Homo sapiens: one gene and its partners. The protein of the gene in region 1 purifies or fractionates together with the protein of each later gene. This does not show direct contact. Each region holds a gene or a part of one and is shown in the gene's direction. Other genes may lie near its edges.

Region 1 (7,032 bases):
TAGGTTGGTATCAGCTAGGTCTTAGATAAGAGAGTGAAATACATTTTACAGATGTGTACTTGATATATTTGCATGTGTTTTGTATAATCATATTGTTATACTGTGTATCAGATTTTAAGTATTTACTTTGGCATTCAAGAGACACTCGAAAGACTATACATCTGTGTATATAGAATGCATATATTCATGGATAGCTCCTGGTATGTTTTGCAACTAGAGTTCATATTGTACATAATGAGCAATTTGTAGCTTTTTTTCCTAATGACAATGCTTTATAATTGTTATTTGAAACACTTGAGAACATTTGGCTCTACTTGCAGATTGCCTCATGCTGTAGGAAATTTTTAAGTCTTTATAAGTTTCAGCATAATTGCCTAAGAATTTCATTGCTTATTAGCTGTCTGCTTTTTCATGAGCACATTTGTAAAATGGGTGAGGTAGGTCAAATGAAGTCTAACCCAATTAAGTGCAACAGTAGTAGCTTAAGCATTTCTGTTTTTTTTTTCCATAGTACGTTTGCATGTCTTTTGGATGTGTTTTGCATAATCATATTCTTACACTCTATATCAGATTTTAGATCTTAGCTTTACTGCTGCTTTCAGAAAACTCTGGTGTGATATCAGCCCCACAATTGGAAAGTCAGTGTTTATTTTAAGATTAGGAACAGGAAACTGCTAAGAAAAACATGTTTTATGAGTAAAGAAACAAAATGGAACTTTAGCTGCAATGAAGACAGAGAAGGCACTTTGAAAAGAGGATCACTTCTACTTTCCTAACTCCTGTACTTTTAAATTTGGAGGAATCTGTAATTCACCACAGTAACTGGTGAAATCTATAGGTTTTAGAAGCATAGTGCTCCCTCTTACTCCCCGGTCATATGAACTACTCCCTATTCTGTTGTAGAGACACTGCTTTTTGTCACTGCTTCTTTTTAAAGGAAAATTATCCTCAAGGATGTGCAGCAGTGGCTACTGAAAACTGGATAAACGACTACTCACCTTTCTTTATTTTTCTTATACTGCCATAATAATGTCACTACTTTCTTAAGTTTTTCTCCCATACCATAAACACTTATTCTCCGTGGAGCAAGAGTCAAAACTATGTCAGGCCACAACACCACTGAACTTTTGTAGATCAACATGAACTAATGGCACCTCTAAATGGCAGCATGTAGGTGTTATCTCAGTGATGCAGGAACCCACACTCCTGTAAATTCCCTCTGGTATATGCTCTCCATTGTCAAATACACACCATAATCTATTCCCTAGTACTCATCAGATTTGCAGCAGTTAACAAATAGGAGACATGCTTCTGGGAACTTTTTGAAAATCAGATAGAACCTCATGTACCCATATTGTGCATGCAGTGTGAGTACATGTTTGGGATGTGGCCTACTAGAGGAATGACACTTTGGAAGAGACCAGATCCATGGTTCTCCATGGGAGCTAGTTTTATGCTGCTTATCAGAATCGTGCAGCCCAATAGGAATGCAGACTTTGGACTCATGCACACCTGAATTCATATCCTCCTAATGCCTTATGGGGTCCTTAGGAGTTTTAAATGAAATAATACATGCAATGTACCTAGTGATGTGCCTTACCAATAGAAGATCCACAAATGACAGGTGTTAGAATGAATGTCACTGGGCATGAGAAAGGACAATGAGATCTTTGTGTCTCTAAGAAATGCAGGTGATCATTGTGTCACTGATCCCTTAATGGGAGCTAGAAGACTGGGTAAGAGAAAAAAGCATCCAATTAATACTTTCTGTAGCTTTGGGGTTTCTGTTTTTTTCTATTTCTAACTACCATATTTTACACCCAATGTGAACATATATGGAGGTGCCAGCTACATAAATCAACATGTTTCTACTGCACTGTACTTACTTTGATCTCTGGGAATGGAGGGTAGAGTCTCACTGCTAATGAGAATTGTTAGAACAGTGGTTTCCCAAAGGAGTGTCAGTTGTATATTTTATTCATGTACCACATGAACTAGATCAGTCTTTCATCTCCAGAAGGGTCTAGGCTATACTGAGAAGACCCCTGGCAGGAAAGCTGTCAATGAAGTTTCTGACATAGATGGGAACATAGTGCATGATCTTTTAAAGTCCCTTCTACCTTTAAGATATGGGGATTCTAAGTGCCTTATAGATTAGATAGAAGTCCTTTAGAGGTGAACAGACCCAAGTTTCTAGAAGTTGCTTGCATGTGGCTGACTTGTGATGCCTCAGGGATTATTGAATAAGAAAGAATGAACATCAGACATCAATTTTTTCACAAGGAAGTACTACTTTAATGTAGCTTAATTTTAGGAATCAGATGTTTAAAAGACGTACTCTACTCAGAACACTGATTTTGCTTCTAAGTGGAACTAGACTTCATAATTTAAATGTGTGAAAAAAAGAAAATTATATTTGTTATAGGTCATTGGGACACTATATCTAGCAAACATTTATTCAGTGTTTTGGTATAATTAAAAATAAAAAAACCCACCACCACCAAACTACTTGTGCCTAATTGAGGCAAGAGTTGAAGCTTAACTTTTTCTAATTTAGTTGGGTGACTAATGAACCGGTGAGGATTCAGGACAGGCATACCAGAGGGTGCTCAGAAATGAAGGTAATTGAGTCAATTATAGTACTTTTGAATAAATGCAGGGCAGATTGTCATTATGTGCAGAACTCTGATTTAAAATAATCATTGTTGGCATGTCTCCTTGCTGCATGTGTACAATTTCATACTCCTATAATGAGTGTTTTAGCTTGGGAGAACCACTTAGGGATTTTTCTCATTGCACTTGGCCATCGTTGTTTTATCCCATTGGGAAATGAGAAACTCAATTTTTAAAAATAAATCGTGATAGCATCAGGTGATATCTTGGGCTTGAAAATATAAAATCTTGAGCCACTCTCATTTCACTTTCTTTCTCATGACAGATGTCTTTATGAATGGAGTTGGCTACAGATTGTCTGGTAGAATTGCAAAATTGATACCTTGATTTAGTTTATAGTGGAAATCCTTTGTCCTTTGAACTTACCTATTATACTGCTTAATGATAATTGACATCATTTTAAATTTTGGCAAATAGATGTTGAGGTTGTTAAATAGTAACTATATATCATCTTAATTTTTACAGTCTTACAGGCCCCAGAATCAGAATGCCTGCTCCTCGGAAATGTTCACTTTGATATGCAAAATACAGGAGGACAGCCCAGCTCACTGTGCTGGCCTGCAAGCTGGTAACTTAAATTTTTGCTCATGTTAGGAATCATTTAAATGGAAAGAAAATAAAATGTTTTGAGAGTGAAGGTCAGGATGTATTTGTTGCTTTGAGTTTTCTTGGCTCCTTTATGTTTTTAAGACTTGGAGCTGCTTGTTTCATTTGCATGTCAGGAGGGATTATTTAACTAACCAACATAACACTCATTTTTCTTGGCATCTCCCAGGTGATGTCCTTGCAAATATCAATGGTGTGAGCACAGAAGGTTTTACCTACAAACAAGTCGTTGACCTGATCAGATCGTCCGGAAACCTGCTAACGTAACTATCTGTCTAGTTCCCGTGGGGCTTCAAAATGTTATGTTTTCTCATAAAGCCTGATGAGTGAATAAATAGGCCTTTTGTTCAGCATTACAAGACGGAGTGAGGCAGTGCACCGGAGCTTTAGAGTGGGGTACAAACATTATCAGTTCCTTTTGTTTCTCAAGATTCCTCACACTTGAACATACTGTCAACATCTGAAGTCAGAGGACATCAATAGCCCAAACGTCTGTGTGGGAAGGATGGCCTTTACAAATGTATTTTTTTAATGTCAAATTCAATTAAACTGGCACACATTCTCTTTAAACTGGGAAGAACTGATCCAATTTTCATGGTTGATATAATCCTGTAGCTAAAACAAATCAAAGGTCAGAAGGGCTGAGTTTTTCCTCTTATGTGACAAGCCACCTGTTTTTCTCTTCTAGTGTTCCATTTGGAAGGAAGAATAGTCTGTTCAACCCTCCCCACCCTGAAACACACATACTCACACCACATGTTCCAAATGTTCCAAACTTCTTTTTTTTTTTTTTTTTTTTGAGACGGAGTCTCGCTCTGTCGCCCTGGATGGAGTGCAGTGGCGCGATCTTGGCTCACTGCAAGCTCTGCCTCCCAGGTTCACGCCATTCTCCTGCCTCAGCCTCCCTAGTAGCTGGGACTACAGGCGCCCACCACCATGCCCGGCTAATTTTTTGTATTTTTAGTAGAGACGGGGTTTCATCGTGTTAGCCAGGATGGTCTCAATCTCCTGACCTCATGATCCACCCGCCTCCGCCTCCCAAAGTGCTGGGATTACAGGCATGAGCCACCGCCCCTGGCCCCAAACTTCTTAATAGAACACTGGCTTTCCCAATTAGAGGTTTGACTGATTTTTCTACCATAACAATACTAGCACCTAATAAAATCTTATTAGGATAGTTAAATGATGAAATTCGCTCATTCATTAAAATCATATTTATTGAGCAAATACTATGTTTCCAGCTCTGTGATAGGCTCAGGAGAGACGAAGATAAAGACTCTCTTAGTACGTTAATAGTTATGGAAGGAAATGGCTCAGAAAAGCCTGAAATTTAAGTAATGTGTATATTTCAGTTATTGATAACTACTATGAGAAAAGTGCAAAACAGCAATGGCCTGTCATGCTAGGTAAGAAGGCTGCTAGTTTGGCTTAGATGTGTAAAGTGGTCTTTTCTAGGGAGGCGATATTTGAGTTGAGATCTAAATGAAGAGAAGGATGGTCAAATGAACTCCTCGTAAGAGCACTTCAGGCAAAGAGAGAGGTCTCTGAGTGCTCACAATGGGCTTGGCATGTACAAGGGAAAGAGAAAAAGACAGTATAATTGGTATTTGATGGATTAGAGAGGGTATAATAAGAAATGAAGCCAGAGAGTTGGCCTGGGGGCAGACCATGGATCTCTTTGGACATGCCAACAAGTTTGGGTTTTATTCTGATTGAGGTGGGTCATATATTGTGTCATTTATTCTTCACAGCCACCCATGAGGTTAATTTTATTCCTATTTATAGATGAAGTGCCTGAAGCTTAGAGGGGGCTTAGTTAAGGTCACATAACTGGTAAGTGATAGGGCTGGGGTTTGACCACCTGCTCTGGATGCCAGGATCTGTCCTTTTCAGCTACAGCTGCTCCTTGGAAGCTGCCAGTAGAAAATCTGCTGGATGCTTTTCAGTGATTCTGGTGTAAAACTTCAAAGGATGCTTTGGGTGTTTGTGAGAGCAGATTTGAAAGATGGTGGTGGTAACAAATTGGGTCCAACTCTATAGGTCCTGTGAGTTCAGGGTAAAGGATGAGGTGCTTTTGCTCTAGAGAACCCTGGATCCAAAGGAGAGGAACCGTGCAGAGTCTGAGGGGAACTGCTGGTAGTTAGAGTCAGAAAGCATGTTCCACATGGGTGAAGAGGGTAGACCACAGGTAAATAGGGGTTGTAGATGGAGGTAACTGTTGGAAATCCGGGAAAATGGGAGACAGTCTGTACAAATACTGAGGAAAATGGCCAAATCAATGGTTGCAGTTTTGCCCATACACATCTATTGCTTCAGCAGGTCAAACTGACATTCAATCCCAATGAAACAGATTCATATGGATTCCCACTATTTCTCAGAGAGTCAAGATCACCTTAAGGAGAAAACAGACAGTATATAGCTTGCTACCACCTGATTATTCCTGGCATGATGCTATTAGAAGTAGAAGACTGATCTCCACATTTAATGCTTTTACCATGCCTTGAAAAATTCCTTGCATCTTTATAGAGAGGTACAGCTTAATTACAAGAAGGAACTTGAACCAACACTTTAAAAATTGGTGTGTGATTCACAAATGAAATTTTTAAATCATATTCAGATTGATGGTTTAGTAGTCAAAATAAAAGCCTTTAACTTGAACACACAGAACAAATCAAATCACTCAGAATAGAACAAGTATTTTATTTTTAGAAATGTGTGTGGTGTGGGAAGAACAGAACACTGGTAAGTTGATAATTCTAGGATTAGAGTTTGTAAACTGAATGTTTTGAGATAAAGAATCATATGAAGGTTATTATGTCATAGTAGTTGTACTTCTGTTTCTTCTAGTACCAAAATTATAAGGAGATTTACAGAGGTAAAGGCTCCTAGAATCCTATGGAGGAAAGGATTTCTCCCTCTTTCAAGAAGTAGCATGTTAATTCCATGGTTGTGAAAGCCCCTAGAGCCTATTATTTCTGTTGTTGTGCCCCTTGTGTTCAGCATGGTTTCTAGAATCTGGTACATAGTAGATGCCCAATAAATATTTACCAAATGAGTGAGGTCATTCAGCCCATCCCCACAAGAACAGATTCTAGTAGAGAGCAGCCATCATTGTCACATAGTGACTTCTATAAAATAAGCTATAGTTTACAAATTAACTAGGATCCTTTCTTTTAGCCACCTTCTCAAGGGGAGTTTTCCCCCATTTTCTTTCTCTGTTATCAGAAGATTTGGCTTTGGTCCAGCTACTCGAAGTGCCATGAGAACTGTAACATTTGTATTTCGTTTTTAGTATAGTATGTGCTCAAAGTGTAGTACTCTGTAGTATGGTACTTATTTAAACGAATCACTCATGTTACTCACTCCCCACCTTCCTCTTCTTTTTTTTTTCCTTAAAACAGGATAGAGACTCTTAATGGAACAATGATTCTGAAAAGAACGGAGCTTGAAGCAAAGCTGCAGGTTTTAAAGGTAATTTAATTTAATGCAGTGAGGCACATTTTTCATCCTTGAATGTGTGAGTGGTAAAATAAAGATCTATTTGAGGAACTGAGATAGCCCTTGAAAAAGAAATGTCGTGGTGAATCTAAACTGCTGAATTATCAAGAGCCGCACAATTACCTTTGGAGGAATATCAAATTCTGCAAACCAGTGTAAATCACTTTCTTCCTTCCTCCTTCTGTGTGTCTATGAGGCTCAGAAAGGCAACAGGAAGGCATGCCACTTGAAGAACTCTTCATTAGTGCACCTGTG
Region 2 (7,032 bases), on another chromosome or scaffold:
GGATTACAGATGTGAGCCACTGCGACTGGCCCCATATGCTCTTTCAAATCAGGAAATGAGTGAGAAGGAAAAGGCCAAGGTTGACTCCTTTTGAGCTCCTGCCATCAGGATTTCAGAAGTGTAGGCAAGCTTCCTAAGTCCATGGGTCAGATAAATTATGCTTACGTGTATGGAATGTTAGAACTTTGGGGCGGACCTTAGGAATTACCTAGTCTCTTCCACCTCCCCATTTGCAGCTCAGAATCAAGCAAAGGACTATATTTGAGACACTCTCATAGGTTCCTTTCTAGCCCTAATGTCATTTGATTCACTTCAGGGAAGCTGAAAATTGTGAGGAGGGAAAGAAAAAGAGGGACAAAGGAAGGAAGCTTAGTCAGCACACATAGTCATCCCCCACCCCAAAACAGGCTATGAGCCCATTGTCTTAGACACTTCCCACTTTCCCACCTGAATTGCCTTTTAGCCATGGGACAGGCCTTCTGGTTATCCTGCCTTCCTCTACCCCATTTCCTTCCTCTTCTAACTCAAGTGATTATCGTAGGAGGTGTAGAGGGGACCAGGAGAGGGAATAAAGAGCAAATTCATCAACTTTTGACTCCTTAGAGGCCACTGTTATTGATGTTTCTCATGCATTTGTTCTCATGGCATGTTTTTAAAACAGGAAACTTGGTTGGGCATGGTGGCTCACGCCTGTAATCCCAGCACTTTGGGAGGCCAAGGCAGGTGGATCACCTGAAGTCAGGAGTTTGAGACCAGCCTGGCCAACATGGTGAAACCCCATCTCTACTAAAAATACAAAATTAGCTGGGCATGGTGGCGTGCACCTGTAATCTCAGCTACTGGGGAGGCTGAGACAGTAGAATCGCTTGAACCCGGGAGGTAGAAGTTGCAGTGAGCTGAGATCACGCCATTGCACTCCAGCCTGGGCAAAAAAGAGCAAAACTCCATCTCAAAAAAATAAATAAGTAAATTTTAAAAATAAGAAGCTCTGAGAAGGTATCGTATCTGGTGTTACCAACAGGTAAAGATTAGGGTTTGGAACTAAATGTAAGACATAGGCTTGCACAATCTTAGGGTTAGAGGGAACCTGAGAGGTGTTCTAATTGGAATTTTCCTAATATGGCCCTGTCAAGTGGTTATCTAGTTTTTGCTTAGTTACCACGAGTGACAAGGAGCTTGCTACTTAACAGAGGCAACCTGTTCCATTTGGGACAGGCTGGCAGGAAGGCATTCATGGAAAGTAAGACACTACTGGCCAGATGCAGTGGCTTATGCCTGTAATCCCAGCACTCTGGAAGCCTGAGGCAGGAGGATCATTTAAGCCCAGGGGTTCAAGATCAGCCTGGGCAACATAGCAAGACCTTGTCTCTATAAGAAATATAAATAAATTAGCCAAGAGTGGTGTTGCATGCCTGTAGTCCCATCCCAGCTACCTGGGAGGATCACTTGAGCCCAGGTGGTCGTAGCTGCAGTGAGCCATGATGGCGCCACTGCAATCCAGCCTGGGCAATGGAGTGAGACCCTGTCTCCAAAAAAAAAAAACATAAGGCACCGCTGTCAGGAATCCAGGAGTGCGTTAATCCAGTCATCCCTCCTACCCCAAAACAATGGCAAATAGGAGATAAGGACTACTCTTTCACTAAATTGGCCAGAGCCCTGTACTTTCGTATATGTCTCTCTGATCAGCAGTGTTGGAGCACAGAGCCTAGCCTAAAGGCCTCTGCAGGCTTTTACCTTCCTCTAAGTCCAAATCTGAACTTTGGGCTGTCTCCTTCCTCTAGAGCAGGGATTCCCCAACCCCCAGGCCGTGGACCGGTACAAGTCCATGGCCTGTTAGAAACCAGGCCACACAGCAGGAGGTGAGCTGCGTGTGAGCAAGCAAAGCTTCATCTATATTTATAGCTGCTCCTCATCGCTCACATTGCTGCCTGAGCTCCGCCTCTTGTCTTATCCGTGGTGGCATTAGACGTTCATAGGAGCACAAACCCTATTGTGAACTGCATATGTGAGGGATCTAGGTTGTGTGCTCCTTAGGAGAAGCTGATGCCTGATGATCTGTCACTGTCATCCATCAACCCCAGATAGGGCTGTCTAGTTGCAGGAAAACAAACTCAGGGCTCCCACTGACTCTACATTATGGTGGATTGTATAATTATTTCATTATATATTACAATGTAATAATAATATAAATAAAGTGCACAATAAATGTAATGCACATGAATTATCCCAAAACCATCTCCTACAAGCCCAGTTCATGGAAAAATTGTCTTCCATGAAACTGGTCCCTGGTGCCAAAACGGTTGGGGACCACTGCTCGACAGAGTTGGTCAGATGCACAGGAAAGTAAAGCAATAACTAACATGCTTAGGAGGCCCACATGTGAGGAGAGAAGCGTGATGGCTGGTCATGAGGGCACTGGCCCACCAGCTGCTAGAAGCAGAAGAGGGCTGGGTGTGGTGGCTCACGCCTGTAATCCCAGCACTTTGGGAGGCCAAGGCGGTGGATCAACTGAGGTCAGGAGTTCGAGACCAGCCTGACCAATATGGCGAAACCCTGTCTCTACTAAAAATACAAAAATTAGCCGGGCACGGTGGCATGTGCCTGTAGTCCCAGCTACTCAGGAGGCTGAGACAGGAGAATTGCTTGAACCTGGGAGGCAGAGGTTGCAGTGAGCCAAGATCATGCCATTGCACTCTAGCCTGGGTAACACAGCAAAACTCCCTCTCAAAAAAAAAAAAAAAAAAAAAAGAAGAAGCCGAAAAAAGAAGCAGAAGAGGAGGCCTCCCATGAGGGCACTGTCTTTTCTGCCTTTGAACACACAGAATGTGTTCATCTAGTAATGAATGTACCCTAGTCTGTGCCTTAGAATATGAGCAATTAGATTAGCAATTGTCTAGAGGCCTGTGAGGAGAGGGGAGGAGGAAGTAAGAGAGAACTGGGGAGATAGGCAGAGACCTTTTCTCTAAAATAAGAACTAGAGGCTGGGTGCAGTGACTCACGCCTGTTATCTCAACACTTCAGGAAGCCAAGACTGGCGGATGACTTGAGGTCAGGAGTTTGAGACCAGCCTGGCCAACATGGCGAAACCCTGTCTCCACTAAAAATACAAAAATTAGTCAGGGCTGGTGGCGCATGCCTGTAATTCCAGCTACTTGGGAGGTTGAGGCATGAGAATCCCTTGAACCCAGGAGGCAGAGTTGCAGTGAGCGGAGATCGCACCATGGCACTCCAGCCTGGGTGACAGAGTGAGACTCTGTCACAAAAAAGTAATTAACGGAATAAAATAAGAACCAGAGTTTGCAGCAATAAGCCAAAAGGGACAGAAGCACTGATCAAGCCCAGGAGGAAACAGGACAGGAGAAGGTCAGGGGGAGATGATGGTATAGAAAGGAGACAGGGGTTCTTCTGTCTCTTAGAAAAGATGGATGAAGTAGAAAAACATACTGAGCTGAGGCCACCCTTGAAGTCAACTCTACAACAGTTCTTCAGGTATTTGAAAGCAATAAACACATTTTTTTTGGATTTCCTTATCTCTAGAATAAATATTCTCATCTGGACCCACTCCTGTTGGCTAATATTCATCTTAAGGTAGAGCTCATGTCTTAACATCAAGTTCCAGTTGTGGCATAGAATTGGGCAAGACAAAACATCACTTTTTCTGGCCACAGTGAACTGATGACTACGTCTTTGTTAGATTGACGGTTTGGTGGTTTATTTTATTTTATTTTTTTAATTTTTATTTTTTGAGATAAGGTCTCACTCTTGTCATCCAGGCTGGAGTGCCGCAGTGGCTTAATCATGGCTCACTGCAGCCTCAAACTCCTGGGCTCAAGTGATCCTCCTACCTCAGCCTCCTGAGTAGCTAGGACTACAGGTGCATGCCACACCCAGCTAATCATTTTTAATTTTTGTAGAGACAAGATCTCGCCATGTTGCCCAGGCTGGTCTCAAACTCCTGGGTTCAAACGATCCTCTCACCTTGGCCTCCCAAAGTGCTGGGATTACAGGCATGAGCCACCCACCATGCCTGGCCTGCTCTTGGATATCTCAGCCTTTTCTTTTGGTCCATCCTATCTTAGAACGAGCCTTATGATGCCAAGCTCTTACTCTTCTTTTGAGTTTTAGAATTAGGTTAGACTCTGAGTGACAGGAAAAAAAATAGTAGCTTAATTAGGATAGAAATGTATTTCTCTCTCATGTTCTGGGCTTATATGGCTCGCCATGGTGTCCTTAATCCCACCTAGCTGTTAGAATAGTTAGTGTTGGCAGCCAGGCAGCCTGTGCTTAGCTAAAGTTAGGAATCCTGCTACTAAGGAGGAAGCGGGGAACAGATATTGGGAATTAGGCAACAACCTCCGCCACCTTCTCTATGCCAGAACCTGGCCACCTTTCTCTCCCTTGTGGTGGAAGTCACTGGTCAGCCTTAATGCTGGTCTCCACTGAGCTTCAAGCTTTGGGTATACTGGCTCTGAAACTCAGCACTGGGTGAGGTATCCTGTGTTCCTGCTAGTTGGGGCCTTATGGACAAGATATGGAGGGGAGTAGTCCCTCACGGCCCTAAGAGGCCCCAGGCCATCTCTGTGCAGCCACTGAGTGAGGAGGGTCTGCTTTGGACTTTGCAGAACTTATTGAAAGCGCAATGTACCTCTACCGTGCCACGGGGGATCCCACCCTCCTAGAACTCGGAAGAGATGCTGTGGAATCCATTGAAAAAATCAGCAAGGTGGAGTGCGGATTTGCAACAGTAAGTGTTTGCATGGCCCCAAGAACTGGGAAGAGTCTCCCCTTGCTGCTAAAAAGCCTCTTTAAGGGTAGAGCTTTGGGAGTTCTGACATATCAGCACTAGAAGGGACCTTGGAGATATACATAATGCTCATATTTTACAGATGGGGAGACCAAAGAACAGAGAAGCTAAGTGCCTTGCTAAAGATCTCACAGCTAGTAGAGGTAGAGCTAGAATTAGTTCCTTGGGATCTTGACCCCGGCCCTTGGCATTCCTCCCACAGTGGAGATCTTTGATCTGTTTGAATAGGTGACTTTGAAAAGGTGAGTTTAGCGAAAAGTTTTGTGAGACACTAAAATAGATTTTAAGGGGAATCCAGAGTCCCATAGCCCTATATTCAAACCTGGGACTCCTTAACAAAGCAGTCCTGCTTAGTCTCACAGATATTTCTTGAATGTCTTTCACATGCCAGGCACTCTGCTAGGCCCAAGGGTTACAGCAGTGGCCTTGCTCTCATGGAGCTTACATTTTAATGAGAAAAAAACCATGAATGTGTATCTGGTAGACAGAAGGCCAGTGTGGCTGGAGCGGAGCAAGCAAGGAGAAAAGTGGGAAGAGATAAGGTCCCAGAGGTAGGCAGGGGCTAGATCATGTAGGGTTTTGTGTAAGCCACAGGAAAGAGTTTGGGTTTTTTTTTCTACTTGGAATGTGAACCCTTGGTAGGATTTACAGCAGAGCAGTGACATGATCTGATTTGTATTTTAGAAAGATCGCTTTGGCTGCTTTGTGAAGAATAGATTGAAAGGGTCAAAGGTGAGAGCCATCTCACATCCATGCAGGAACCAAGCAGGCAAGATATAAATATGAAAGTAGAAGAAAATAGTCTGGAAGAAAATCCCCTGAAAAGCCTACAGTGTTGGGGTATGGAATTCAAAACAACAACAAAACACTTATTTTGCAAAAGTTTGTAATGTGATTATATTCTATAAGTAAAATATAGATATGTGTAGGGGAAGAGAGAAGACCTACATGTGGAAGGGAAAAAATAAACCCCTGATATGATTTGGTTTCTAATATGCTGTATTGTGTGAAAAACCAAAATGATAAGCCCACTGGGGCCTTCCTAGGAATGCTGGGCTCATTTCCATGAACATGAAGCCCTTTGGAGGTCTTCCATGGTGAATGATGGGAACAGGGGTCTGACCTTTCTCAAACAGGGCAAGGAAATAATCATCTTGATACATCAAGACCATATTTGAGTCATATTTTTAAATGTAAGATAGAGTCCACTGAGAATGTTTTGTTTAGAAGTATTACTAATTCTGAGAAGCTAAAATAAATGTTTGTAGCAAGTAATCTTAGTCATCCATGCCTGAAAACTCAGTTGAAATTCTCTAAATAAGACTCCTTACTAAAACAATGTCAATAGTTTTCATCAACAGCAGTTGAACCTAGTAAGTGTCGATACTTTGGGTCTGAGTGGAGAAAAAAAGACCCCTTATTAGTTGCTTACAAAAACTTGGTAATTGGCCAAGCGCAGTGGCTCAGGCTTGTAATCCCGGCACTTTGGGAGGCCAAGGCAGGCGGATCACGAGGTCAGGAGTTCAAGACCAGCCTGACCAACATGGTGAAACCCTGTCTCTACTAAAAATACAAAAAAAATTACCTGGGTGTGGTGGCATGTGCCTGTAGTCCCAGCTACTCTGGAGGCTGAGGCAGGAGAATTGCTTGAACCCGGGAGGCAGAGGTTGCAGTGAGCCGAGACCATGCCATTGCACTCCAGCCTGGGCAACAGAGTGAAACTCCATCTCTAAAAAAAAAAAAACTTGGTAATCATCTGAATGCCCTTCCAAGGAGGATTAGCCAAGTAAATGGTGATCCATTTTCACGATGGAATACTCTGCCATCATTAAAAGGGACGATTAGCTCTATGTTTATAGTCACAAAAAGTTGGGATAAAGGGGATAGGAGATTGTCATGTCATAGAGCAAGGTTAGCGGAGACCTTTCTGGTGAGGAAGCATTTGAGCAGAGACCTGAAGGAAGGGAGGGAACAAGCTATGAGAAAAACTGGAGGCGGAGTGCTCCAGGCTGAAAGAACCACAGATGCAAAGAGCCCGAAGCAGGAGGGTGCTGTGCTAGCTCAGGACAGAAAGGCAGCAGCTGGAGCTCTTAGAGTGGTAAGAGGTGAGGGCAGGAAGGGAGCAGGGGCCAGGTCATGACTTGCATTTTTATCCTGCATGAAATGGAGGGCTCACAGAAAGTTGTGAGTAGAGAATTGACAGGAAGACTTATGTTATACAGATACTG
Region 3 (7,032 bases), on another chromosome or scaffold:
GAGAATCACTTGAACTCAGGAGGTGGAGGTTGCAGTGAGCTGAGATCGTGCCACCGCACTCCAGCCTGGCGACAGAGCGAGACTCTGTCTCAAAAAAAAAAAAAAAAAAAAATTGACTTGTGGCTGGGCACAGTGGCTCACATCTGTAATCCCTGTGCTTTAGGAGGCCAAGGTAGGAGTTTTGCTTCAGGCCAGGTGTTCAAGGCCAGCCTGGGCAACATAGCAAGACCCTGTCTTTAAATTTAAAAAAAAAAAAATTAGCCAGACATGGTGGCGCATGTCTGTAATCCTAGCTACTTGGGAGGCTGAGGTGGGAGGATTGCTTGAGCCCAGGAGTTCAAGGCTACAGTGAGCCATTGCAGCATTTCACTGCAGTGAGATCCTGGCCAGCAGAGTGAGATCCTGTCTCTACAAAAAACAATAATATAATTTGTAGGAGTTACATATTTTGAATCCGAATTCTTTGGCAGTTTCTGGCTCAGCTCTTCTTCACTCTGTGGTGTGGAACTTTTGGAGAATAAAGTTTTTATTTATTAATTTTTTTTTGAGACACAGATTCTGTGTTGCCCAGACTGGAGTGCAGTGGCACAGTCAGCCTCACAGTCATGATCATAGCTCACTGCAGCCTCAAACTCCTGGGCTGAAGTGATCCTCCCACCTCAGGCTCCCAAAGTGACTGGGCCCACAGGCATGCACCACCATGCCTGGCTATTTTTCATTTTCTTTAGTTCAGATGGGGGTCCCACTGTATTGCCCAGGCTGGTCTCGAACTCCTGGCCTCAAGTGATCCTCCCACCTTGGCCTCCCAAAGTGCTTGGATACAGGCATGAGCCACCTTGCCTGGCCTAGTTTCTTAACTTTGATATAATTAAATGTATTAATATTTTCCTTTGTGATTTATATTTTGTCTATCTTGTTTAAGAAGTCCTTCCCTGGCTGAGTGCAGTGAACCCAGGAGACGGAGGATGCAGTGAGACAAGATTGTGCCACTGCACTCCAGCCAGGGTGACAGAGTCAGATTCTGTCTCAAAAAAAAAAAAAAAAAAAAAAGTCCTTCCCTACCCTGAAATTATAAAAAAAATTCTCCTGTATTTACTTCTAAAAATTGTGTAGCGTTTCCCCTTCACATTTATACTTTTAATCCACTTGTAATTGATTGAAAATATGTGTGATTGATAACATACAATCTGCTTTTATTTTTTCCATATAAATAACTGTTTTCACACATATTTATTGAAGAGTCCAGTCTGTTTTTGAGCTGAGTGTCAGCTCTGCTGTGAATCATATTTTCGTCGGCCTGTGGTCTTTTCCTGGGCGCTGTCTATGTTGATTTATTTATTTATTTATTTTAATTTTTGTAGAGAAAGGATCTCACCATCTTGCTCAGGCTGGTCTTGAACTCCTGGGCTCAAGCGATCCTCCTGCCTCAGTGTCCCAAAGTGCTGGGATTAGAGACGTGAGCCACCGTGCCTGAATTTAGCCTTCTTTCATAGTCATCATTTTATTTGTGAGACTCATCCATATTGATAGACTTAGCTCATTCTTTTTAATTTTTTTTTTTTCCCGAAACAGAATCTCCCTCTGTTGCCCAGGCTGGAGTGCAGTGATGTGATTTTGCCTCACTGCAGCCTCCGCCTCCTGGGTTCAAGCAGTTCTCCTGCCTCAGCCTCCCGAGTAGCTGAGATTACAGGCATGCGTCACCACACCCAGCTGATTTTTGTATTTTTAATAGAGATGGGGTTTCACCGTGTTGGCCAGGCTGGTCTCAAACTCCTGACCTCAAGTGATCCACCCACCTCAGCCTCCTAAAGTGCTGGGATTACAGGCATGAGCCACCGTGCCTGGCCTGAAAAAATATTTTTGTTGGATGGGATTCTATTTTATGAATGTACCGCAATTTATTCGTGTTCTTACTGATGAATATTTAGGCTGTTTTCTGGTTATAAAGAGCGCTCCTATGAGTGTCTCAGATACAGTCTCAATGGGAGCATTTCTTTAGGATAAATACCTGCGTATGGAATTGCTGGGTGGCAGCATGTACCCACCTCAACCTTGCTGGATGTTGCCAATGTGTTCTCCAAAGTAGTTAATTATTTTTTTCTTCTTTCAGTGCCTGAAGACCTCTCATTAGAAGAGAGAGAAGAACTTCTAGACATTCGTCGAAGAAAAAAGGAACTTATTGATGACATTGAGGTAAAAAAAAAAAAAAAAAACCAAAAATCCAAAACTCTGTTTTTTGCTTTTGAGTAAAATAGTAAAAGAGTAGCCTCACAAAAATGTAAAAAAAAAAAAAAACCCAAAAACAAAAAATAACAAAAAAAAAAGATGTTTAGTGTGTGCATATAAGAACTACACAAAGAGACAGAGTGAAAAGTTATCAAGTTGGGAAAGCAAAGACTCCACACAGGCAGTGAGACCCCGGGTAGAAATCAAGACATCGTAGAACTGAGGTCAGCAGTAGCCAGCTCGCAAACCCAGGGCCACAGGCAGCGTATCATCTAAAGCAGCAGCAAGCCACGAGCGCATTGCTCTGTCAAATTGTGCACTGAGACCCTCTTTCGTTAACTAATATGTTTTTTTGTTTGTTTTTTTCTTTTTGCTTTTTTGAGACAGAGTCTCGCTCTGTTGCCCAGGCTGGAGTGCAGTGGCACAATCTGGGCTCACTGCATCCTTTGCCTCCTGGGTTCACGCCATTCTCCTGCCTCAGTCTCCTGAGTATCTGAGATTACAGGCACCCACCACCACACCCAGCTAATTTTTTGTATTTTTAGTAGAGACAGGGTTTCACTGTGTTAGGCAGATTGGTCTTGATCTCCTGACCTCGTGATCCGCTCACCTCAGCCTCCCAAAGTGCTGGGATCACAGACGTGAGCCACTGCGCCCAGCCACCAATATGTTAATGTTCTAGCACCTAGAACATTGCCTGTTCCATTTTTGGCTCTCAGATGCCCTTTGAGTGAATATGTGGGCATGTATTGGGTTCCAGCTGTGTACCAAGTGCCTACCAGGTGGTAGGAGTAGGATGACACATTAGGCCGGGCACAGCGGCTCACACCTGTTATCCCAGCACTTTGGGAGGCCAAGGCAGGAGGATCTCTTGAGCCCAGGAGTTCAAGACCAGCCTGGGCAACATGGTCAAACCCCATCTCTACAAAAAATGCACGCCACCATGCCCAGCTAAGTTTTGTACCTGTAGTCCCAGATACTCGGGAGGCTGAGGTGGGAGGATCACCTGAGCCCAAGAAGCTGAGGCTACAGTGAACTGTGATTGTGCCAGTGTACTGCGGACTGGGCAACAGAGCAAGACCCTGTCTAAAAAAAAGAAAAAGTAAAGACAAATAAAAACACAGGCACACAAACATGGGCTCTTCCACACTTGTGTACTTTACTCAGAGGATGGGGTAGAGGGCGGTCCCACAGGAGAAGCATGTGAATAAAGCCACCGTCTCGGCGTGGGAGAGCCTGTGATTGTTACAGAAGTGATTCAGAGGGCCGGCCCTGGCTCCTTCCGTTTGGGGCTTCCTTGGGAAAGTCAATCAGACATGGAGGTCTTCTTTGAGAAGCTTTCTAGTCATTGTCATTGCCAAAATAAATGTGGCTTCACAGGCCACGGCAAGGACAGGCCTTGTCCCAGACAATAGCTCCTTTCTAGGAGTTTGCGTTTTAAGTCCGAGTGTCTTGGCATATAATAGGGTCCTGAATAAAAATGTCTTTGTATTTGAAAGGTAATTCATGGAAATTTTTCTTCTAAGGTTACCCTTCATTCTTGGGAAAATCAGATAACCCAGAATTGGTCTCTGGTTGAAGAATAAGGATGTATATTATTTGGACCTTAGTAATCAGCCTGCTGGATAAATGTGGAATCGTAATCTAGCTCTAACTACTTCATTTTATCAGTGAGCACACTGAGGCCCAGGGAAGTTGGAGGCTTCCAGAGGTCAGTCTCATTAGTAGGGGTCACATCAAGGGAAAGGGGGTCTGTCCCCTTGGATGCATTTGGCTTCTCTGAGTGCCCTGAGTCAGTTCTGTTCACCCCCGGGCTCTGTCCATGGTGCTTCATCTCATTCAAGGTGATACAAGTGATCCTGAGACCACTGACCTAAACACACCTGAGCTTCAGCCTGAGACCACCGATCTAAACACACCCGAGCCTCAGCTTCTCCCTGGGAACACAGGCAGTGTTGAAGGAGGAGGCAGGTGACAACTGTTTGCATGGCAGGGCTGAATAGTGCAGTTAAGCGAACTGAGGACTCATGGCTTTCCTTTTGCTGGGCTTTTTTTTTTTGTTTTTTTGTTTTTTTTAAAAAAAGAGACCAAGTCTTGCTCTGTCACCCAGACTGGAGTACAGTGGTGTGATCATGGCTCACTGCAGCCTCAAACTCGTGGGTTCATGCAGTCCTCCCTCCTCAGCCTCTCTAGTAGCTAGGACTACAGGCATGTACCACCACACTCAGCTAATTTTTCTGTTTTTCTTTTTTGTAGCAATGAGGCCTTGCTACATTGCCCAGGCTGTTCTCAAACTCCTGATCTCAAGCGATCCCTCTGCTTCAACCTCCCAAAATGCTGGGATTACAGGCATGAGCCACTGCTCCTGGCTTGGTTTTATCTTTTCACAGCTGTGATATTCCCCCCCCAGTGTGCTTGCCTGATTTTATATACAAATACCCTAGGATCTGCAGAGTGGACCCCTCTGAACCTGGTATCTGATGAAAAGTGAGCAAAGAATTTTGTGTTCTCCTAAGTTGTGGTGGCTTTGACTATGAAGCTCTAGCTGTATTGATAATAGTATTGGTTTTTCCATCCCTGTGATGCTCCGGTGAGACCGCAGGGAAGCTTGTCACAAGAGAACTAAAATTTCTGAGTCTCAGGGGAGGAAGGTTAAGACCCACTCCCCACCTCGAAATTCTTCTTTTTTGACAGAGGCTGAAATATGAAATTGCAGAGGTGATGACAGAGATCGACAATCTAACTTCCGTAGAGGAGAGGTAACAATTTGTGGCTACACCTTTAAGCTATTTACTCTTTTCTTTCTACCTCCATCCTGTAGTCAAACTTGCAGAAAGTGGGGTGAGAGTGGTTGGGATGTGGGGAGCCTGTGGAGTTGTTAATTCCTCTCCTCTCCCCCTACTCTGCGTGGAGGGGTCCAGGGGTGTTTCCCTGGATGTTACCTCCCATTGCCTCCTCTGTAAGTCATCATCTGCCTTTATAGGTTCAGGCATAAGCACAGGCACTTCAGGGTTGACCCGCACAGAAATTACCTGCCTGCGTCATAAGGAACTGTGCTTTATTAAAATCACTGGTTTGCATCATTAGCTTTTTCTGAAGTGTCTCAAGTTATCAAATGTGAACAGCAATGGTGGCTGCACCACCCCTGCCGCCACTGCGGAGACTGGGGGCCCCTCCGTGAGGGCCTGTGCTTCGCTTCCTTGAGCCCGTTGTTGCGGGGGAAAGTACACTGGAGGGCCGTGACTGGGCTGCATTGTGAAAACAGCATGAGTGATTTTTAAATTATTTCACACCAATAGCAAAACGACTCAGAGGAACAAACAGATAGCCATGGGAAGAAAGAAATTCAACATGGATCCCAAAAAGGTAAGAGAATGCTCTCCCTTTTCTGGCCTGCAGGAGATGGACTAATTGATTTGAACTGCCGTTTCCCTTTTGGACAGAGGTCAGAGGTGGTCCGCCCTGTCACCTCATAAAAGACTGGGAGTTGAAGGCACATTTTTATCAAAAAGGGGCTTTTCGCGAGTGGGGTGAAGCAGAAGTGCCTTGTAGGGCTGGTGCCCTGGGCAGAAAGGCCTTTCTTTCAGAGTGAGCTGCTGGGTGAGGAAGCAGCCTCACAGGCACGGCTTGGACGACTCAGCACAGGCCGGGCTTGGCTCCAGGCAGTGCCCTTGCTGTCGAGGCTCATATTCGCATCTTCCCGCTTGACCTGGGTCAGGGAATCACGTGACTAGGAAGGAGCAGGGGTGGGAGTGGAACCCTGGTGTCCAGAGGTTACGGACTTTATAATCTGGGTGGGTTAAGTGGTTCACATAAGAGGACTTTATTCCTCCATTCACCTTAAAAAGCAGGTGTCTGTGAAAAAACAAGGGATCCTCCACATTTAAGCCAGCATCTTTCTCTTTCCTCAAGTTGGATTTTCTAGGGAGACACTCGAAAACCGTGAAACCTGAAACATGTAGCTGCTTGTTTTTGAGACCGAGCTAAGGGATTTGGCAGAATCTGTGAAGCTTTTTGGGGGACATTTTGGTTTTGAGAAAGAAGGGTAGACCTGAGTCTTCAGGGTTGAGGAGAGGAACGGCGTGTCCACGGGAAGGTCTCGCTGCAGAGCTGGTTCACGCCACTCCTGTGGTCTTCAGTCGGTCTGCACTTTTTTTTTTTTTTTTTTTTTTGAGATAGAGTCTTGCTCTGTCACCCAGGCTGGAGTGCAGTGGCACGATCTTGGCTCACTGCAAGCTCCGCCTCCCGGGTTCACGCCATTCTCCTGCCTCAGCCTCCCGGGTAGCTGAGACTACAGGCGCCCGCCACCACGCCCGGCTAATTTTTTGTATTTTTAGTAGAGATGGGGTTTCACTGTGTTAGCCAGGATGGTCTTGATCTCCTGACCTCATGATCCGCCCGCCTCGGCCTCCCAAAGTGCTGGGATTATGTGCGTGAGCCACCGTGCCTGGCCCAGTCGGTCTGTACTTCTAACGTTCCCCTTGCTTTTCTGGCATTGAGCCTCTGTGCTAATGAGTTAATTATTTGTTCCTTCGATAAATATCTGATTGCAGAATTCCATTGTACAAGGTCTAAGATCTGTAAACTCACATAAGTGCAGGTGCAGTTGCAGGTGATATTTACAGAAGTGCATGTCGTTATTTCCTGCTCACGGTTTGCAGGTCTGGGACTGCAGGTATGCGCCACTGCACCCAGATAATTTTTTTTTTTTTTTTTGAGACAGAGTCTAACTCTGTTGCCCAGGCTGGAGTGCAGTGGTGCGATCTCGGCCCACCGCAAGCTCCACCTCCCGGGTTCACACCATTC
Region 4 (4,745 bases), on another chromosome or scaffold:
GGGTGGGTGGATGGATGGATGCATGGATGGATGGATGCATGGATAGATGGATGGATTCATAGATAAACCAACAAAATGCAAGCATAAGGAGAAGTGGAATCAATTCTAGTGCTGGCTTCTTGAAGTCGCATGTCTGAAGAGGTAAATGGGGTCTCTGCTTTCTGCCTCAGTTTCTTCGTCCATTGATTGGGTGAATAAAGCCTTAGTTTCCTCAGCTAAAAGGTGCCAAGTAGCACCAGCTGCTATCCCTGGCCCAGGCTGGTGATCAGGGGAGGAGAGACAAGTCTCTTCTTCTTCACAGCCTCTGTCCACCTGGATCTGCCAGTGCTCCCTGGGTGCCCCCACGGGGCAGGCGCTGGGTGAGGTTCTTGGTCACAAATCAACCTCGTCTAATGCTTGCCTCAACCCCCTGCCCTGGAGACCACATCCCTCATGTTCCATGTCAGGACTGTGGCCCCTCGGGGAGGTTAAGCAGCTTGCTAGAGGTCAGCGACTTCCCGAGGGCCTCCAGCTCCAGGAGCTGTGCTTCCAGCCAGCCAGTGAGAGCTGCCTGTCCTTGCCTCCTGCTCCCCCTCCCCCTCCTTCCTTACCATTTCTTCTCTTCTCCCTCCCTCTCCTTTTCTCCTGCCTGTGTTCTTCTATCTTCCATCTCTGCAGACCCTTGGACACAGCTGTGTGGAGCGAGAACGAGGAGGGGGAGGGGCACAGGTAGCCCCTGTGTCTCTGATGCCCACGTTGCTGCGTTGCTGTTCTGGGCTTCTAGGAGAGGAGTTTATTCGGCTGAGGAGCAACACAGTCACCTTTCTACTCCATCCAAGAAACAGCTCCTTCCCCAGCAGCCCACAGGGGCTGTGCGGGGGACACAGTGTGGGCTCGGTCTTGGCGTGGAGGCCCCCAGGCTGTCCTTCACCATGTGCCTGTTCCCTCAGATTGCTGAAGGGATGGCATACATTGAGCGCATGAATTCCATCCACCGCGACCTGCGGGCGGCCAACATCCTGGTGTCTGAGGCCTTGTGCTGCAAAATTGCTGATTTTGGCTTGGCTCGAATCATCGACAGTGAATACACGGCCCAAGAGGGTAAGCACAGCCCCTAACCACAAGGGAAACCTAGGGCCTTATCTTTCCCAGCTCCTCAAAGCCGCCTTTAACTTCTCCCAGCACAGCCCTGAGGGAAGACACCTGAGGGCTATACGGTTTCTACAGCTCTAGATCAGCATTTCCTTCATTTACCCAAATGTGTTCAGCAGAATGGTAGTGCCCTGAGACCTCCCATGGAGGAACAGCTTTAGGATAAGGTAGGTTTGGAGAAACAGCAGTCCACCCTACTCCCTGTCTTGGAGATTCCCAGTGCACATCAACATATTAAAGGCACTGAGAAGTCCTGCAGCAAAGAAACAGTTTATGTTTGCCTCACCTAGTGCCTCCCAAACTAATTTGAGCTCCAAATACTATTTTTTTTTTTTTTGAGATGGAGTCTCTGTCACCCAGGCTGGAGTGCAGTGGCACAATCTTGGCTCACTGCAACCTCCGCCTCCTGGGTTCAAGCAATTCTTCTGCCTCAGCCTCCCAAGTAGTTGGGATTACAGGCGTGTGCCACTACACCTGGCTAATTTTTGTATGTTTAGTAGAGATGGGGTTTCACCATGTTGGCCAGGCTGGTCTCGAACTCCTGAATTTAGGTGATCTGCCTGCCTTGACCTCCCAAAGCGCTGGGATGACAGGTGTAAGCCATGCCCAAATACTATTTTTATATAGTCCCTATTAACCTTCCATGGAATTAGGCTTTCACAGAGCACACTGTGGGAAACACAGCTCTCATGTGCGATCAGCAAACCAACCTGTATTAGGGTGTCCACGGAGCACTGTTTTACTCTGTGCATATAACTGAGGTGGAAATCTACGTCACAAGAGAATCTGAAGGGGTCACATATATTTATCAAGCTAGCAAGCAGTGTCTGCTGAGCCTATGAGTCAGATGACAAGCAGACAGGATATGGCTTGTTCTCTCGGGAACTTCAGGCTGGCTGGGGAGACCGAGAAATGGAGGCCAGGGGAGGCTGTGAAGTGCCAAGCCCTGAGGTCTGCTCCAAATGCTGGCCGGGGCTGCAGCCATTGAGGTGCTTCACAGGGCAGCCGGATGTGAGTTCTTCCTCATAGCGGCCCTCGGAGGTACAAGTGTCACCATTTCCATTTTGCAGGAAGGGACTAACGGAGGCGCCCGCAGGTTTAAATGGCTTGCCCAGGCCATGTCTTTTAAATTAAACAAGGCCCCTGTAAGGTGAAACAGGCCCCTTCCATCCCAGGTGGAAACGTGGTGGCTGCCCATTGAGGCCATCGCTCTCTTTTTAAAGAACCAAAGTGGGTGACTGTGTGGTATTGGTGTCCATATCGTCTTTCTGTGCTGCTGATGTCGTGTCTGCACTCACCTGGTCATGTGTCCTGGTGTGCGGTAGTGGCTCCCCCGCCATGCCTGGCCGCCCCGCCCTGTGAGGCCCCGCAGTGGGGGCTTGATGGAAGGACAGCAGGAGCAGGGGTAGGGGTGAGGATGGAGGGTAGGGGCCACCGGCCGTGGCCTCCCAAAGCTTGCATGGCTTTTCCCACAGGGGCCAAGTTCCCCATCAAGTGGACAGCCCCGGAAGCCATCCACTTCGGGGTCTTCACCATCAAAGCAGACGTGTGGTCGTTTGGAGTCCTCCTGATGGAAGTTGTCACTTATGGGCGGGTGCCATACCCAGGTAGGTGGCTCACCCCGCAGCTCGCGGCTCCCTGCTTTCCCGGCCGGCCCTGATGGCAGGTCGCCTGTGCTTGGTGCCTGTGGCTGCCCTGTTCTTTTCAGAGTGAGTCCCAGAGCGAAGACGGAGACCCAGGCATGGCATCTGGGGTGGAGCTCTGCCCCCTGCATCACTATTGCTCTGGGCCACAGGGCTGTGTCTCCTTCCTCCAGCAGAGGTCAAATGAGTCCCTCAAACTGAAATCAAGACAAAGGGCACATCCGAACTCAAGTTTACTCCCAGTGGCTTGTTCTCAGTTGAGGACAGGTTGTGCCTACCTTGGCTTTGCACCCATAGTGGATTCCCCAAAGCCCCTTCCTGTGTGGCCAGAATCGTGGACGACAGCCCCCAGCCCCAGTCGAAGGGCTCCAGCCACTTGGCCCCCACAGGTGGGCAGGCTCCGGGTCACCTGCTGCTGTGTGCACCTGGCAGCTGCCCATGAGTGATGGGCTTGGCTGTGCCCCTGGTGGTCACAGGTAATCAAGAGAGGGAGGGTCCCATCTTCAGAGGACCTGCCCCGTACTCAGGAGAAAATCTACAGCCTCATTTCTAGGCATTCCCCAGGCAATAAAAAGTAAATAAAGGGCTGTTTAGAGACCGGGCAGCCAGGCAACGCACGAGGCTGGAGAAGTGGTCTGGGACTGTGGGCACTGCTGTCCCTTGCCTGGGCCCACTGTGCCCCGCGGGACGCTCAGGGCCCCCCACCCACCGAGGACCCCAGCCCCTCACCCCCGCTTGCGGTCTCCTCTGCCGCAGGGATGAGCAACCCCGAGGTCATCCGCAACCTGGAGCGCGGCTACCGCATGCCGCGCCCCGACACCTGCCCGCCCGAGCTGTACCGCGGCGTCATCGCCGAGTGCTGGCGCAGCCGGCCCGAGGAGCGGCCCACCTTCGAGTTCCTGCAGTCGGTGCTGGAGGACTTCTACACGGCCACCGAGCGGCAGTACGAGCTGCAGCCCTAGCCGGCCGCGCCCGCCTGCGCCCCGTGCCCACCTCTGCGCGGACGACCCCGACTTCCGTGCCATCCCAGACGGGCCGCGAAGGCGGGGTGTCGCCTGTGCCCTTTTCTCAGACCCGGAATCCAGTGGGCAGAGGCAGCTTCGCAGGGGGTCCCCGGACGGACTCCTTCACCGACTGCACCCCCGGGCGAGTTACGCGGCCTCTCTGTGCCGCTTCATTTGTAGAGGGCTGTAACAGTGACCTCGCACGGTCATCCGGAGTACTAAGCCCCAGTAAGGTGTTCAGGACTGGTAAGCGACTGTCATCAAGTAAGGCCCCCGTGCTGGGCACCCCCCGTGCTGGCCGCGTCCCCGCCTCTGCGCCCTGCGTGGACCCCGCCCTGCCCCGCTACAGAAGCCAGACTGGGTCCCGCGGACGCCAGCAGGGGCAGCCCCAGCCTAGGCTGCGCTCCAGCACTGCGGGGCTTTTCTGCAATAAAGTCACGAGCGTTCGAGCTGTTCCGTGTCGTTACCTGTGACAAGCTGGACATCGCGTGCAGGACGAGCACGGGGCGCAGGCGTGGCGCAGCCAGGGAGTCCCGCGTGGTCTGGGCTCCCGGCGGTTGAGCGGGGCCCGCAGGGGGCGCTGTGGCCTCATAAATCCGTGGCTCGGGCCCGCGCCGGGAGCTCTGGGCGGGGAAAAGCCAGGGGCTGACGCTGTGGGCCGGCGCTTTGGGGACGGCTAGGACGCGAGCCCAGCTCCAGAGGCTCCGAGTCCCCAGGCCAGGTGCATAAACAAGGATCGGGTGACGATGGGGCGTAAAAGCGAGGAACGTCGGCGGCTCCCACTACATGGAGGCTCTTCACTTGGCATGTTTTTGTTTTGTTTTTAATAGACCGATTTTTTTTTTAGCAGTTAGGTTTACAGAAAAAAAAAGTGGGAATTAAGTAGACAGTCTCCATATCTCGCCCATTTCCCCTATTACTAACATCGTGCAATGGTGGTGCATTTGTTATCACTGATGAGCCAATA

Evidence for each region.
Region 2: the proteins of CYTIP (region 1) and EDEM2 purify together in Homo sapiens (affinity purification with mass spectrometry; 3 studies listed by BioGRID and IntAct, with this or other methods). This does not show direct contact.
Region 3: the proteins of CYTIP (region 1) and CYTH3 purify together in Homo sapiens (affinity purification with mass spectrometry; 3 studies listed by BioGRID and IntAct, with this or other methods). This does not show direct contact.
Region 4: the proteins of CYTIP (region 1) and BLK purify together in Homo sapiens (affinity purification with mass spectrometry; 2 studies listed by BioGRID and IntAct, with this or other methods). This does not show direct contact.

The regions. Positions count from the first base shown.
Region 1 is NC_000002.12:157,427,069-157,434,100, reverse strand, and holds part of CYTIP (cytohesin-interacting protein), read left to right. Parts: intron 1-3,138; coding exon 3,139-3,241; intron 3,242-3,448; coding exon 3,449-3,542; intron 3,543-6,680; coding exon 6,681-6,750; intron 6,751-7,032. UniProt on the Homo sapiens protein: By its binding to cytohesin-1 (CYTH1), it modifies activation of ARFs by CYTH1 and its precise function may be to sequester CYTH1 in the cytoplasm.
Region 2 is NC_000020.11:35,116,310-35,123,341, reverse strand, and holds part of EDEM2 (ER degradation-enhancing alpha-mannosidase-like protein 2 isoform 1 precursor), read left to right. Parts: intron 1-4,622; coding exon 4,623-4,744; intron 4,745-6,134; exon of another isoform or gene 6,135-6,206; intron 6,207-7,032. Other genes in the region: MMP24-AS1-EDEM2 (ER degradation-enhancing alpha-mannosidase-like protein 2), read left to right, coding at 4,623-4,744. UniProt on the Homo sapiens protein: Involved in the endoplasmic reticulum-associated degradation (ERAD) pathway that targets misfolded glycoproteins for degradation in an N-glycan-dependent manner.
Region 3 is NC_000007.14:6,185,610-6,192,641, reverse strand, and holds part of CYTH3 (cytohesin-3), read left to right. Parts: intron 1-2,110; coding exon 2,111-2,193; intron 2,194-4,920; coding exon 4,921-4,985; intron 4,986-5,525; coding exon 5,526-5,592; intron 5,593-7,032. UniProt on the Homo sapiens protein: Promotes guanine-nucleotide exchange on ARF1 and ARF6. Promotes the activation of ARF factors through replacement of GDP with GTP. Plays a role in the epithelial polarization.
Region 4 is NC_000008.11:11,560,373-11,565,117, forward strand, and holds the end of BLK (tyrosine-protein kinase Blk), read left to right. Parts: intron 1-929; coding exon 930-1,080; intron 1,081-2,606; coding exon 2,607-2,738; intron 2,739-3,530; coding exon 3,531-3,736; 3' UTR 3,737-4,227; downstream 4,228-4,745. UniProt on the Homo sapiens protein: Non-receptor tyrosine kinase involved in B-lymphocyte development, differentiation and signaling. B-cell receptor (BCR) signaling requires a tight regulation of several protein tyrosine kinases and phosphatases, and associated coreceptors.